Regions from separate parts of the Homo sapiens genome. Here region 2 is linked to region 1. A link means that fine-mapping ties the variant in region 1 to the expression of a gene that starts in the linked region. Tissue or cell type: stomach. Region 1 holds a variant in brackets; the other region holds the start of a gene. All regions are shown on one strand. Distances are between the middles of the regions.

Region 1 (8,103 bases):
TTCTTTCCTCTGACGGCCTTGACCTGAGTAAGCCTGGGCAGCCCTGGCCTGGGAGGCTTGCGAGCATCCCCACCGTCACTGGTGAAGGGCTCTGGGATAGAGAGTCAGGAAATTGGTTCTTGTTCTGCCTTTGTCACTCTTCTGGAAAAGTCACCTCACTTTCCTGGGTCTTCGTCATAGACCCAGGAAATGAAGACATTGAACGTTATGACTGCCACAGTCCTTGCCAGCTCCGGAGTTCCTTGAATTTTATGATACAGGATGTCTTCCTAGTGCAAGAGGTCCCAGTGTCATGCATGGCCGTGGTCCCATCAAGGGCCTCCTAACTTCCCCCAGCTCTTGTCAGGCCTGCACAGGGCAGGCTTCCAGAAAACAGCCTCCTTTCTGGCTTCTGTCAGCACAGCAGTTGTGAACTTCCTGCCATGTGGCTCATAGCTTCAATGTCTGGGCCAAATGTGGAGAAAGGGCAAGCAGAGAAGGCCTGCAAGGAGGAAGCTGAGGGACTGGCACTGGCTCCCACTTCCTTCTTATCTGTGGGTGAGGCACAGAAAGCCCCCGGCCCTCCCCTGCCAGGGTGCGGTGTGTGGGCCCCTGATCGGCAAGGCCTCCACATCACTACCACCTTACCACCTTGGCCTCCACGTGTTTCAGAGCCGGCTCCCTTCCCATGGCCTTTCCACTCCACCCCACCCCACCCCCAGCTCTGACATCAAAGCAGTGGGCTCTGGAGCTCTGAGGATGTCCCAGGCTGTTCACACAGAGGCCATTCCACATTTTACAGCTCTAATTGGTTTTGTAACTGCAGTGAGTTGATGAGAAACACACCCGCTCACACGTAGAAGACAGGGAGCACTACAAACTTTGCTTATTTTGCAAATGCAATGAAGCAAGACAGCAGTGTCACTGCCAACATCTGACTGATCAAGAGTGTCCATGGCATTTTTCCAGAGAGACAGCTGGGCCTGCGATGGCCTTGCAGGGCCCCAGATGCTCTGTGGGGTGCTCCAGTGTCCCTCCCTCACTTGTTTACCCGTGAATGCGCCACATCCTGCCTGGGGCTGGTCAGGTGAGGCTGGAGGACTTCATGGCGGCAGGCTCAGCCTGATAATCCCAGGCCAGCGGGTGGTGCTAGGGTCAGGCTGCACATGGACAGGAGGATGAGAGGGCATGGGCAGTCACCGCAGATGGGGCCAGCTTGGGCCTGGCACACTGCAGGTGTTCAGTTGAGACTGGTTAAAAAGTCCTCTTGCTAGAGCTCCTGACTCTTCTTGGTGCTAACAGGCACCTCCGGCTTGTCCTGTCCATAACCCACGCTTGTTTTCTGCGCCAGCCCACCCTAACCTCCTCCATCTTTCCATTTCAGTGAATGGCACCACCCCCTACCAGAGCTGAGAGAAAAGCCTACCAGCTCCCCATCTCTGGGGACATCAGAACAGTGGCGTCCATGCTATCAGCACCTCCTCCTGCAGCCGCCAAAGAGTCTCCTCATTTTCCCTTTCGTCCCTGCAGTCTGTTCTCCAAAAACAGCAGGAGCAAGCTTTCACAAATGGGAGTCAGGTTATGCAGCTTTCCTGCCTAAAATCCTCGGCTGGCTTCCCATGGCTCTTGAATAAAATCTCAGCTCCTCGCCACAGTCTAAAGGCCCTGACTTCCTACCTAACTTCTTTCATTTTTGCCGTGAGTCCGTTTGATCCAGCCTGTGGGACTGCTGTCTGTCCTCAAGGGCATGAACACGGTGCTGCTGAAGGACTTTTGCATGTACTCTTTGTCTGCCTAGAATGCTCTGCCCTCCGTGTTTTCAAGACCCGCCTGTCCTCCTCCCTTCCTCGGAGGAGTCCCTTACCACCCAATGGGAGGGCATCACTCCATCTCATCCGTGCTGCCAAATACTTCCCATTCTACTATTTGCAACCATTACCATCCAACATTTAGATAACCATTTTTATAGTTTTTGTTGTTGATTTGTTTATAATTAACCTCCCCTACAAGAATGAAAGCTTCTAGGTTGTCTTGTTGGCCACAGTGCCTAGAACAATGCCTGGCACCCATCAGTGCTTAACACGTGTTGACTGAATGGAGCTGGGCCTGTTCCACTTTCATAAGTCACCCCAGTAGGAATTCCAACCATGTGGAGAGTAATGACTCCATCCCAGGGTTCACAGAGACCATGGCGGGTTGAAGTGGGTCACTTCGGACTTCAGCAGAAACTCGACAGCTCCCTGTGAGCATGCCTGTGGCCACACTGGTGAGGCTCCACCCTCACTATGGACCAGCAGCACATGAGGGGCCAGCCGAGGTCACCAGGCCCTCCCTCCTCTCCTGCCAGCTGAGCCTCCCTGCATGTGGGTGGGACCATGAGGGATGTTTGCGAGTAGAGAAAAGGAAGAGGCAAGATGAAGACTAGCTCAGAAATGTGACTGTTTTCTTTTTGTTTACCTCTATTTTCTGATAATTATATAGTGATCATGTATGTCTTTCATAATTAAAAAATCATTGTAAAAAATTATTCTAGTAGATTAATAGTATCAGAAGAGACAGAGAGCTAGAAATAACAATTTACCTTTAAAATATCTTGAAAATGGACTGCAACCATGTGCAATGATCCAACCCTCTAGCTCAGGAGTCGGCCGCCCACAGCCCACCACCTGTTTTGTAAATAAAATTGTATTGGAACACAGCCATGCTCATCCTATAGATGCCTTCTAACTCTATCACGTTAGAGTTGACTTGTTGCGACAAAGACCCCGAGGCCTGCAACAGCCTGAAATGTAGACCACCTGGCTCTTTGCAGGAAAAGCTTGCTGGCTCCTGCCCTAGAGAGTACCCTGCTCTCCGCGTTTACCGGGGTGCGGGGGAGGTCCCTCCACAATGCCAGCACAGGCAGCCTGCAGCTCCTGCTGTGTCCTCTGCCCGTTTGGTGTATCTGTGTGTCTCTCTGCTGAAGGTCAGAAACTAGATTCATCTTTATATTTTTATAAGGCCTGGCACATTTTTTACCTTAAATGAGTCCATATTATGAAAATATTTCTGTTCTGCTTGAGTAAGGAAGTCTCAGCTGATGTCCCACCCTCCAACAGTCATGCGTGGCCACAGAGTTGGGGATCCTCCCGCTGAGTGCTGCACAGAGACCCCCATAGCTGCCTCTTTTGCAACTCCTCACTGTCTGGTGGCAGGGGCACCCTGTCTCTGAAAGCTCTTGGCCACACGGGACGGCTGGAGGTTGCCCCTCCACAGCACCCCTCCCTGACCCTGCTCAAGACTGCCCTGGAAAGGCCTCTTCAGAGCCAGGTAGCACCCCCCAGGAACAGGAGACAGTAAATACCCACCAGTCAGGATAAGCCAGGGTAGGGGTGGGCAGTCTGGATTAGGATTTGCATTTTTAAAGAAATTTCATTTTGTTCCTTTCACACAAAAGCACCTGGCCTTATGCTTATGAAACATTGCTGAGAAAGCACCATGCTG[A/G]GCATGAAATGAAAAGCATAAATTCATTTGTAATTTGCAGCCAGCATCAATGGCACAAAACAGGCAGCCTGGTCCAGTGTGTTTAATTGGCCCCCTGTCAGATGTGTATATCATGAAGTAGCTTTTAACACTCTCTTTGTATGTAACATAAGGGCAAATAACAGCAGAGCGTAGCTTCCTGATAAACCAAAGGATCACAATTCCAGGCTAGCAGAATTTAATTAGGGAGGATATGAATGCAGCAATAGACCCAATAATTCATCTACTATGAGAAGGTGATGTGTGTCAAAGCTGGCCTCCGGAAGATACGAGTGTGTGTGTGCGCACGCACACGAATGATATGTCTGTGTTCGTGTGTGTGTGTGTGTGCACATGTGCCTGCGCCTGTGTGTGTGTATGCGTGTGGGGGGGGGTGGGGGGGGAGTGAGAGAGTCCAGCATTTTTCGACAAGGGAAGGAACTAACTGAGGTTGCCTGTGAACATCTGTCATCTTTACTCTTCACACTAGAGAAATGGGCATTTGACTTAAGACTGGCTGTTCCTCTTGAGCTGGGTGTGAAAGGGACAGAGCCTTCCTTTTCTTAGCAAAAGGTAGTAGGTTCACATTAAAATCATTTCCCAGAGAGCTAATGGTCCTCTCAGGTTAACGACTCAAGGCAAATTAACTCGTCTGGTCACTACTCCGTAGGGGACACAGGGTAGGGGATGTCTCATCTCTAGAGCTTAATTAAAGAACTGCAGGTGTCCTGGTCAGCTGGTGGTCACGTAGGCTTGACTAATGGTAATATTTTGTTCATTAAACTTCTGGAAGGAGACATAAGCACGATCCCTCACAATCCCTCAATCCCAAAATAAGCAGACCAGCGTTTACCATGTTCTCCACAAGTCTGATTCTTGGGGAGCTGCCAACTCTGGGCAAAAGCTCAACTTTGCTGGCTGGAGGTGCACAGCATGGCTTAGTAACAGAGCAGACGTCTGCCTGTCTGCCCTGCAGGACTCTTGGGGGTCTCTGCCCACTGCGCTCTCAGTGTCACAGGAGCGGGCAGTGCAGTGAGATGGGCCTCCCCATTCCACTCTTTTGGGAAAAGGCTTACCCCAGGCCTTGGGTAAGAAGCACGAACAATAAGATCTGCATTCGCTCTGTTTCTGTTCCTCTTCCTCTTTCCACCCCTCAGATTTGCAGGTCTCCAGGATGATTCTCAGACTGAGCTCCTAGGAAGCAGTTTAGACACAGGTTCCATCCGGACTCAGGATGGCTGAGCTGGGCCTGCGATCTGCGCTTTCATAGGGCGATGCTCAAGCGGGTGATCCACAGATCACACTGTGATGGCACTGCCTGATGCACAGACAGTCCTAAGAGCCCTCTGGGGTCTCCCCACGCGCCCATGTGCCGCCTGTCCTAGGGCACAACGGCCACCTGGCTGCCGGGCCTGGTAAAGCCTCCTCCGAGCTCCCGCACCATGTTCATGCTTCTCCTCATCACATTTCCCATCCGATATGCCTACTGCCTGACAGATCCCGTGACATTGCTTTAGAAACATTTTCTTTTAATTTTCACAACATATCCCACAAGATAGTTTTATCCTGATTTTCCCAAAGGGGGAACTATGACTCCAAGGTAAAGCAGCATGCCCAAGTTCAAACAGCTGCCAAGTGCAAGAGCTGAGTCTCAAGCTGTGACCCCCAAGATCCCTGCCCTCCACAGGGCAAAGTGGGAGCCTTCTGCATGTCTCTCCAGGCTCTGGGTCTGGCGGGACTTGTGCCTCCAGACTCAGCTCCCGCTGGGTGCACCAGCCTCCTGCACTTCCCCACTCTTATGAGCCATATTATGTCCCCCAGTAATTTATAGGCTGGAGTCCTAACCCCACATACCTCATAATTGGACTGTACTTGGAGACAGAGTCTTTAAGGAAATTCAGTTAAAATGAGGTAATGAGGGTGGGCCCTAGACTAATATGACCAGTGTCCTTATAAGAAGAGGAGATGAGGACACGGACATGCACAGAGGGAAGACCATGTGAGGACTCAGCAAGATGGCAGAGTGCTGTCTCCCTACAAGCCAAGGAGAGAGGCCTCAGGAGGAACCAAGCCTGCCAACACCTTGATTTTGGACTTCCAACCTCTAGAACTGTAAGATGGTACATCTCTATGGTTTACCACCCCCCAGTCTGCAGTGCTTTGTTACACAGCCAGAGCAGACTGAGACACTCCTCCTCACATGTGCTGCACCTTTGCCCACACCTGCCATCCCCATGCCTCAGTGCTCTTTCCACTCTCTTTGCTTGGTTAGCCTCTGCCAGTCTTTTGAGATTCATGAGGCATCTATTCTCCTCCAATCCTCTGGTTTGGGATTCCTTCTCTGAACACCTGTATGTAGCCCCCTGTGCATGGCGGTATCTTAGCAGACAGCAAATCATGATTGGTTGTGTGTCTGTCTCCCCAACTGGACCCCATGCTCTAGGAGAGCAGGGACTCTGTCATATACCACTGTGTGCCCAGCAGCTGGTGCAGGCCCTGGCGCATGATGCCAGACTGACATCAGTGGCACTATATGCTGAGTGCTGGGTCCTCACCGGAGCATATGCTGGAACCCAAGTTTCTCTGGGCTCATGAAGAGAAGTCCATCACATCTCTTGGCAGGATCCATAGGTGGCCACATTTCCTCCTTTCTTCCTCTTCATTTGGCCTGAGTCAGCTTGTCCTCCTGCCCCTCCGTGGAGCATGAGGAGCCTGTAGCCACCAGGGGAGCCTGCCCCACCCTGACCCGTCACAATTGCCAAGCCTCTCTTTGCCTTGAGTCCCTTGATGCCTTTTTGCCCCCTGGCACCTCCTCAGTGCTCCTGGATCTTGGAGGCCGGTGGGACCTTACAGAGGCTGGGCTTACTTGTCCTAAGGAATCTGGAGTGGCAGGTGTACTAACGCAAGGAACCAGGCCTCCACCCCACCACTGCCTCCCACCAGTTCAACCCTGCTTCCCTGCTTCTGCAGCAGCCCAATTCTCTGCTTTATGAATGGAGCAGATCCCTCCAAGGTGAAACCATGGCTAAAACAGATCATTAAAACAGAAGATGTTTGGATTGAAAGTATATTACATTATATGCATTTTTTTTTGCAGCAGCAGCAGCAGCATTTTGCTGCTAATTTTTTGCATATGCTAATTTTACAATGAATTTCATTCATTCCCAGAGTCCACATCAGCTTGTGTGTGCTTGTGGGCATATGGGGGTCTGGTTCACCCTTGATTCAAGTGTGGACATCTACCAGCCTGTGAGGGTAGCTTCCCTGAGCTGGCACTCCCTCGCCTCTAAAATGGGGATAATGTCTACACTGCAGGGCTGTTTTGAGGAGTGGAGATTTTGTGATAGTTGTTCAAGTGATAGCTCTCACTGACAGCTGCTGATTATTAACAGCAGTACTCTTTCTTTTCAACTTAATTTTCAAAGCTTGTGTCAAATATCTACTTCTTTAGTATTCTCTTTACTGTCTATCACATAATTAAGTTATTGTTTCTGTTTTCATTAACTAAATAAGAAAGGGAGAAAAGTGTCATGTTTGGGAATAAAACAAAAATAGCTTTGGGAAATCAGAAAGGAGGTAAATAAGTGGGAGAGAAAGCATACCACTGATGGCTATGTCTCTCTGTGCATCTGACAATGCAGGAGCACCTTTGTTATCCCATTATCCCTACTGGGTCCCAGCACTAGCTGCCTCCCCGCAGCACTGTACCTGTTAAAGGCAAGCTGGCACCATGCTCGGCCTTGTGCTTCCCTCTTGCCTGGAATACACGTGCCATTATTGTTTGTTGTTCTGCCTTGAACTCACTGCTGCAATCCACCCTGTGCACAGTTATGAATTTAACAATCAAAAGGAGAGCATGTGAGGAGCTGTCTTCTGCTGGGGGGACACATCTGAATAAAGAGACATATAAAAGTCATTGCCTTGCCCTAAAGGAGCTGACGGTCAGGTTGATAATTCAGGTCTTAGACTTTTTTTTTATTTTTTACTTTTGTAATTTAAGAATATTCAGTATGAGCAGTGCCAGCGGAATGGTTTGGAGACTTTCAGTGCTTCCTGAGTTCAGAGGAAGGAAACACAGCCTGGGGTTGGAGGTGGGCCCCAGAAGGCAGGAAATCCATCAGGAGACAGGCAGGATGATGTACACTCCAGGGGCAGATGGGTCATCCTGGGGGGTGTCACCTGGCTGCCTTCTCCAGGTGCTCGCCTGTTCCTCCCTGCCTAGCCCCCCCAGAGAAGAGCTGGTTTGCCCCCATCCAGGAGTGAGGACCTGGCCCCTACCATGGAGGCTGCTCTGTCTGTGCTCCCTCCCCCGGCAGAGCAAGCAAAGCCCCTTTCCCAGGGACGGAGCAGCTTCGGGGTGCACTCAGATCCCACCCGATCCTGACCCCATGGCAGATGGGACTTCACCATCCCAGGGCAGAGAGGGCCTCATCACTCACAGGACCTCACCCCAAAGCCCCGTCCACCAAGACGCAGATTTATTCAGATGGTTTAGGCAGGCAAGGTGGCTTGTGCGGGAGTTCTTCCTCAGGCCCTCTTTAATAACAACAGCAATAATAAAGTCAATCCTGCATGATTATTATGGAATGCTGGTGCAATTGAGCAGATAAAGTACTTCCAAAT
Region 2 (8,103 bases), 820 kb after region 1:
AACATAGTGAGACCTCAACTACCTGTAGTCCTGGCTACTTGGGAGGCTGAGGTGGGAGGATCACTTGAGCCCAGGAGTTTGAAGGTACAGTGAGCTACAACTGTGCCACTGCACTCCAGCCTGGGCAATGGAGCGAGACCCTGTGTCTAAAAAATAAAAACAAAAAAACTCAGACCCATATGAAAATCTGCACATGGATGTTTACAGCAGCTTTATCCATAATTGCCAAAACTTGGAAGCAACCAATATGTCCCTCAGTAGATGAGTGGACAAATAAACTGTGGTCCATCCAATGGAATACTAACCAGTACTAAAAGAAATTAGCTGTCGGCCGGGCGCCGTGGCTCACGCCTGTAATCCCAGCACTTTGGGAGGCCGAGGCGGGCGGATCATGAGGTCAGTAGTTCGAGACCAGCCTGACCAACATGGTGAAACCCCGTCTCTACTAAAAAAAGATACAAAAATTAGCTGGGCGTGGTGGTGCATGCCTGTAATCCCAGCTACTCAGGAGGCTGAGGCAGGAGAATCGCTTGAACCTGGGAGGCAGAGGTTGCAGTGAGCCGAGATTGCGCCATTGCACTACAGCCTGGGGGACAGAGCAAGACTCTGTCTAAAAAAAAAAGAAATTAGCTGTCAAGCTATGAAAAAACATGGAGGAATCTAAACGCATATCACTAAGTGAAGAACGCCAATGTGAAGAGGCTACAGATGCATGAGTCCAACTACAGGACATTCTGGAAAGCATGAAACTATGGAGACACTGAAAACATCAGTGGTGGCCAGGAGTTAGGGGAGATGGATGGATGGGCAGGGCACAGAGGATTTCAAGGCAGTGACACTACTGTATGTGATGCTACGATGGTAGACATGTGTCATCATACATTTGCCTAACTCATGAACACACCAAGCCAAGAGTGAGCCCTCATGGAAACTGTACTCCAAGTGATGATGGCATGTCAACAGAGGTTCATCAGTTGTGACGAAAATAGCACTCTGGTGGGGGAAGTTGTGAGGTAATATGGGAAATCTCTGCACATTCTGCTCTTTTGCTGAGAACCTAAAACTGCTCTAAAAAGCAACTCCTATTAAAAGACAACAACCAAATAACTATAGTTTCATCTGAAAGAAGGTGCTACATTCAGGAAACAAGAATAGGGTGCTTTAAGGAAGCGATGGCTCAGGATGATATATTAAGTATCAAAGTTGAAATAAAAAATCCTACAGTCAGGAAAAAACCATAAAGGAATGATGGGCAGGGAATGACCAGAGAAGCAGGAACACACAGAGGCTTCCAGGGAGAGGTGGTCCCTGACCTGCAGGCTGCCCTCTCCCCAGAGGAGTGACCAGAGGGGGCAAACCACAGAGAGGGAGGTCAACAGCCAACAGCAGCCCGACAAGGAAAAGAGTTTACACTCTCATGAACTGAACTAAACGTGCCCAACGAGCGCAGCCCTAAGCCCACCCATGCCACATAGCTGGGAGGGGTGGCATCTGGACACCTGTCACCCACCACCCCTGGGGAGACACTCAAGGAGGTAACCTTGTTGTGTCCCTCTTCTGACGGCTGAGGAGAAACAGGGCCATGAACTCCAACAGAACTGAAGCTAGAGGGTTTCAAGTATTATTACACAGATGCTGAATCCCACGGAGGATGGTCCCGCCCCACCTGACCCCTCAGAGTGGAGCTCCCTGGCCTGTGACGTTGTGTCACATCTCAGAAGGGAGACCAGAGTTGGATGACGTCACCCTTCAGTGCTGAGCTGGGGAAGAACAGAGCCGCCTCCAATGCCCTCAGCACTCAGAACAGTGGCGGACACACCAGACACCCAGCACAAGTGAAGAAAATTAACTCCTCCTGCAGACCTCGAGGACAGAGACCCCCACAATGAGAGCAAATAGAAAGACACAGAGGAGCCACCAAGCATATGCTTGGTAAGGGGAGCTGGGGCCCAGTAGGTCTGCAGACAAGCTCCAGACCAGGCAAGAAAGGATGAAGAGGAAAAAGCCCTGAGACACAGAAAGGACAGACAGCTGACCCTTGAATGATGCAAGGGCTAGGGACACTGGCCCCCACACAGTTGAAAACCCACCTTTAAGCTTTGACTCCCCAAAAGCTTAACTACTAACAGACTCCTGTTGACTGGAAGCCTTATGCATAACATACGCAGTCAAGTGGCACATATTTTTTATGTTTTATGCTATTATATACTGTATTACAATACGGTAAGCTACAAATCCCAGGAAGAAAATCCTAAGGAAGAGGAAATGTAGTTCCACTTCACTGAATGGAAATGGATCAACATAAACATCTTCATCCTCATGGTCTCCATGTTGAGTAGGCTGAGGAGGAGGAAGGAGAAGAAGGGTTGGTCTTGCCGTCTCAGGGTGGCAGAGGTGAAGGAAAATCCACGCATAAGTGACCTATGTAGTGCAAAGTCAGCTGTACTTTACACCACAAAACACTTATTAAGAATAGGAATTCAATTGAACTAGGACTCAAAGGGAAAAGGACAAGAGAGGACTATAGAAATATGGAAGGGAATTTGGGGACCAAAATCAACATCATTGTAAGGCTAACATGTGAACAGCAAAGTACTAACATAGAAGGCTCCAGAGAATCAAAGAATGTAGTTCTTAAGATGAAGAAATTAAAGCAGCTAGACAGAATGTAATGAATACATAAGACAGACTATGATGACTATATCTCTGAACTGGGACATGAAGATTTAAGCCTATTGAGCTAGGGTGGGCACACTTTTTCTGTAAAGGGCCAGTGAATAACTTAGGCTTGAGGGCCACACTCGTGCCACAACTCTACCACTCCAGACAAAAGCAGCCCCAGGCCGGGCACAGTGGCTCACACCTGTAATCCCTGCACTTTGGGAGGCCGAGGCGGGTGGATCACCTGAGGTCAGGAGTGTGAAAACAGCCTGGCCAATATGGTGAAACCCTGTCTCTACTAAAAATACAAAAATTAGCCGGGCATGGTGGCAGGCACCTGTAGTCCCAGCTATTTGGGAGGCTGAGGCGGGAGAATCTCTTGAACCCTGGAGGCAGAGGTTGCAATGAGCCAAGATTGTGCCATTGCACTCCAGCCTGGGCAACAAGAGCAAAACTCCGTCTCAAAAAAAAAAAAAAAAAAGAAGCCCCAGACCACCTGGAATCCAACGGGTGGGGTTCCCAGAGAATTTTATTATAAACACCGGCAATGGGCTGGGTCTGACCTCAGGGCCGTATTTCACCAACTCTGGTTCTAGATTTAAAGAGCCCACTAAGTGCCCAGAGATGTGATATGGAAAAAGCCCAAACTAAGACACATCAGCATGACATTTCACGACATCAAGAATAAAGAAAAGCTTCTGAGAAAAACACAGTTCACATACAAATAAGAACGGCACCAGACTTCTCAGAAAAGCTGGCAGCGAGAAAACAAAGTTGTGATGTGAACATTGTCGGTGACAATTTCCAAGCTAGATTTTTACACCCAGCCAGGATATCAGGTAAAGCCACTAGCAGAGACACAATGAGTCCAAAAATTCACCCCACGTAGCTCAGGAAGTCATTAAAAAGGTGTCCATCCCCTGAAACCAAAACACAGGAGTAAGCTGAAGAGAACAAGAACCGGGTCCGCCATAGCAGGGACAGCAGGCAGGCGGCCGCGAACCAGATCCACTCCACCGGGCGGAGGTTTCAGGGATCCAGGTCCCTGGAAGCTGGGCAAGGGAAACCCAAGGCTGTAAGCAGTCAAGGCCCTGACCCGGCATGAACATCACTGACAGTCGTGATGTCAGCACAGATGACTGAGCCAAATGCCAATGTGACCAGCTATGGGGAGACACAGGGAAACACAAGGTAAACAGAACTCGGGAGTGTCACCACAAGCTGTCACTCAGAAACACAGCTCTGCCACCAGGCGGGGCCCCTGAACCCCTTGTCCCTGCGGAGGGAGAAGGGTCACCAGATGGCCCACTTGGGAGGTGCCCACCTAGAGACGCCTCTGCTCTGATATGGTGGGCTGGCCCCCAGGCCTCCCCTGGATGAGTCGCTGACCCATCCCTGGGTGTTGAGCCAAGCCCTCCTCTGGGTGCCCTCCCCCGGGTGCTGGGCCCTGGGTGAGCTTCCCCTGGGTGTCCATCCCAAGTGGAATCTCCTGGGTGCCTGACCCTGAGTGCCAGTCGCTGGCCCACCCACCCTTGAGCTTCCACCCCATCCCGGCCCTCCCCGGGTGCCCACCCCCCACGCCCTCTGCAGGCCCCGGGCGCCCGCCCTGTCCCTGGGTGCCGGTCCCTGGCCACTCCCCTGGGTGCCCGCCCCCGAGCGCCCTCCCAGCACGCGCTCACCCGTACAAGATGACGTCATAGAGCGTCCGGCCCTGCACGTTCAGGAAGTGGGCGTAGCCCGCGCGCGCAGCAGGCGGGGCCCCCGCGGCCGCAGGACTCGGAAGCGGCAGTTCATTGGTCAGCAGCCCTAGCAGGAAGGGCGCCGCGTCGGGGCCACGCACGCGCAGCAGGGTGCGCCCGTCCAGCCGGAAGCAGGCCCAGGCCGCTCCGGCCGTTGGGTCGCCACCAGGACTGCAGGAGCTGTGGGCCAGGCGGCACCTTGGGGCCGCGCGCAGCCGCCAGCGCCAGACCGGGCCGCCGCGCCCCGGAGTGGCGCCTCGAAGCAGCGCCGCGGTCGCCATCTTGGACAAGAGTGGGGCAGCGGGAAGGGCCCAAGGAAGCGGGAGGGGCGGGTGCCACAGCGGCCCCTGGCGGTGGCCGCCGGAGGGAGGCGGGAAGGGGCGGGCGCAGAGTGCGTGCGTGAGGGGTGAACGGAACGTGCGTGCCTGAGGGGCGGAGCAGCGCCGGTTGAGGCCGACTGAGAGTGCGTGCGTGAGGAGCAGGGCCTCCCGAGCTGGAAGGGGCGGGCGGGGCGAGCGTGCCTGCTGGGTGGGTGGGGCATGCGTGTGGGGCGGAGCATCGTGCGCGGGGTGTGTTTCGGGGCGGGGACTCGGCCTATCCGTCAGCACGCAGGCTCCACCCTCGGTAGGTAACGAGGTTTCTGCCGGCCTCTTAAGCGCCATCCCATGTCCCATTCGGTGGCCTTCCTCGTTTTCACCCACCCATGTCGGGCACCGTCACTCATCTCGAGAACCTCTTCATCCTCCCAACCTGAAACTCCCTGTTAAACACCCACTCCCGAGGCCCTGGAGCTCCCATTGTACCTTCTGGCTCCATGAGCGTGCCTCCTCTAGGGACCTCACAGGAGCAGAATCCTACGGGATTTGTCGTTTGCGACGGCTTATTTCACTCAGCATAGTATTCTCAAAGTCCATCCACGGTCTAGCATGTATCAGCATTTTATTTTTATTTTTATTTTTATTTTTATTTTTTGTAAAGACAGGGTCTTGGTTATGTTGCCCAGGCTGGCCTCAAGCTCCAGAGCTCAGGCAGTCCTCCCTCCTCAGCCTCTTGAGTAGCTGGAACTACAGGCGCTAGCCACCACACCAGCTAATTTTTGTATTTTTTTTGTAGAAATGGTCTCCCCATGTTGTCCAGGCTGGTCTCAAACTCCTAGGCTCAAGCGATTCACCGGCTTTGGCCTCCCAAAGTGCTGGGATTACAGGCGTGAGCTACCGCACCCGGCCGCTTCCTCTTTCCTACCAGTTCGCCAGCGTCCACGTGTGGCTGTTGTGTCATTTTTTTCATTTGCTGGACCATTGGGACTTCAGCTGCAGGTGGCAGGAGGCTCCATCCCCAAGTGTCTCCACGGATAAGGACAGGCACCATCCAGCCCACAACCCCTCCGCACCCCTAATCAGTGTGACATGATGAGACACAATCACAGCTTCAAATCACATCCTTGGTAACTTCTGCTTTTTTCAGGCCAGGGTCACCCCCATCATGTGTCTATAGTCCTCTTCAGTGCAGGATTCCAAGCTCCCCTGGAGCCCAGCCTGTCCTCCCACAGGACGTCCTTCCAGACCACAGGACGTCCTTCCAATAACTCTCGTCCTCTCTTCACAGCTGAACTCACAGAGGACAATTTAGGCAGGAACCACACACTGCTATGACATATCCACCCCACCGTGCTTTCTCGAGGAGTGATGTCCCATACCCCCTGCTGAGCAGCCCTGTACAGTGGCCACTTTCCCTGGTAGTAGGTGACACATCTACAAGGTGGCCCCAGCAGCCTTCAGCCCTAGAGTCTGACTGCCCTGGTCCAAGCCATCCCTGCCTTGCTGGCCTCCTGGGGCCCATGCACCCTGTTGACATTCCCCTCTCCACTGCCCTCCACTCAAAGCACCAAAGAAGACTTACTCAATGTGTCCTTATGGTGCAGAGTCCCAGCAAGCAGAGGTCTTTGTATCTGTTGAATAAAAAAATTCCTCATGATGCGTAGTAACATCAGTGAGGAAGACTGCACCAAGGCGCATCATGTGGTGTGGGGCCCTGCCTGGCGGCCTTGGGGGAGATGGAGCTCAACCCCAACACAGCAGGGCAGAGGGTGGAGAAGCCGAGGAGCAGCGTGGGGTCTGTGGGTGGGAATGACTAAGGAGACATCAGGGCTGAGGGGTCTGGCTAAACCCACCTCACAGGGTCCTTGCTCTAGGCAGGCAGGGTGATCAGACGTCACCAGGTGATGGTGGAGGATGAGGGACCTGGTTGGATGTCATCGAGGGTGAGATATCCAGGGTGTGGGGTTCTGGCTAAACTGACTCAGTAGGGCTCTTACTAAAACTGGATTTTCCAAGCAAGTGCACAGATGGGCCTAGGAGAAAGTTCCAGATCCCAGCCGGAGTTTGGCCAAGCAGAAAGTCTCTGCCATAGCTCCCTGCCGTGTCCTGAGGGCCTGGGCCAGCAGCCGGCATGCCTTAGGGGCTCAGGTGACATTGGGCAGTCAGCGAATTCCCGCAGGCCCTGGATGTGGCCATGGAGGCCCTGCCGTTAGCCCACTCTCTTCACTGCAGCTTCCTCATCCCTGGAGCTCCCGCTTGCCCTTCTGGACCCTCCTCACAGCATCCCCACCTGCCCCAAGCCCTGTGAGGCCCCGGACCCTGCCTACCCAACCAGGCGAGGCTCCGGGCATGGTGAGGAGCCTGGAGCAAATCAGCTGGGTCCCCCAAGGTCCCTGGGCCTCAGTCCCCCGCCAGACGCCAGCTTCCTGACTGAGATAGGCCAGGCCTAGAATGCGCTCCCTAGCCACTGGCTGCAGCCGCCACCCCTTCCTCTGCCAGAGCCTGGCGTTCCTGAGGGTGACCCGGTACCCCCCGGGCAGCCCCATGCGGACAGAGCGGAAGGCAGGCAGGATGAAACCCGGGGCAGGGAGTGGCGCAGACAACACCCACGGGCGGGGGTCGAGTTCCTCTGGGCTCACGTCAGCCTGGTCCTCAGCCAGAGGAGGAATTTGCTTCCACCCCTGCACAGGCAGCAGGAAAGGCGTGCGGCAACCTGGTGCCCCGGGCCGGGCCCACTGGCTCCGAATCTGTCCTGCCTAGGCCCCCCCACCCCAAAGAAGCCACCACCAACACCAGGGGCCACTTCAGTTCGAATGGACTCAAAGGAAACAGAGCTTTCAGCTCCAGAGTCCTGGGGGCCACATTCCAGTGCCTGAGCCATGTGAGGCCGTAACTCCAGGCCACCTCCAAGAAGCCTTCCTGGACTCTACACCAGCCACCCTGGCTGCTGTTCTCCTTATCAGCAGGCAGGGGACTGGGGCCTGGCACCTGGGGGAGGAAACCCCGCCCCTGTCCTGGCTTCAGGGACCAGGCTGAAGCAGGGGCCAGGGGAGTGAGAACTGGAAAATGCCTGGGCGTAGGGGTCGCAGCCCCTGCTTCCCAGGTACTGTGGGGGGGTTGGGGGAAGGTGGTTTCCTGTTATTCTCGCCTCAGGGCTTCCTCCCTTCCTAGAGGAAGGAGAGTGCCACTGCCCTATTCTGAGGGAGTCTCTGAGCAGCTGGCCCCTCACCCCACTATGCACTCCCATGAGCAGCCGAGAGTTTTGGCTGAGGTTGTGGAAACGGATGGAGGTGAGACATGGAGTCCCATCCCGCCAGCCTGCTCCAGCACCGCCTGCTCTGGGTGTGTCCTGCTGTGTACAGGGCTGGGCCCACCAGCGACTGGCC

Evidence for each region. PIP is the estimated chance that this variant, and not a neighbour inherited with it, causes the effect.
Region 2: IBA57 starts here. The variant in region 1 is fine-mapped to the expression of IBA57 in stomach (GTEx, PIP 0.99).

What each region holds. Positions count from the first base shown.
Region 1 is chr1:228,982,998-228,991,100 of GRCh38, reverse strand. No RefSeq gene overlaps it. Among named protein-coding and RNA genes, the nearest start is that of LINC02815, 170 kb to the left of the region's middle. RefSeq lists an enhancer at 792-1,542. The variant A/G (reference allele first, on the strand shown) is at 3,463.
Region 2 is chr1:228,162,395-228,170,497 of GRCh38, reverse strand. It overlaps IBA57 (iron-sulfur cluster assembly factor IBA57), which reads right to left and starts at 4,694. Exons shown (of 3, transcript NM_001010867.4): 1 at 4,341-4,694. The coding sequence starts at 4,681. It overlaps IBA57-DT (IBA57 divergent transcript), which reads left to right and starts at 4,986. Exons shown (of 2, transcript NR_103540.1): 1 at 4,986-5,024; 2 at 6,006-6,412. It overlaps LOC124904534 (a long non-coding RNA gene), which reads right to left. Exons shown (of 2, transcript XR_007066913.1): 1 at 7,045-8,103; 2 at 5,316-6,348. RefSeq lists a silencer at 4,063-5,102 and an enhancer at 4,207-5,109.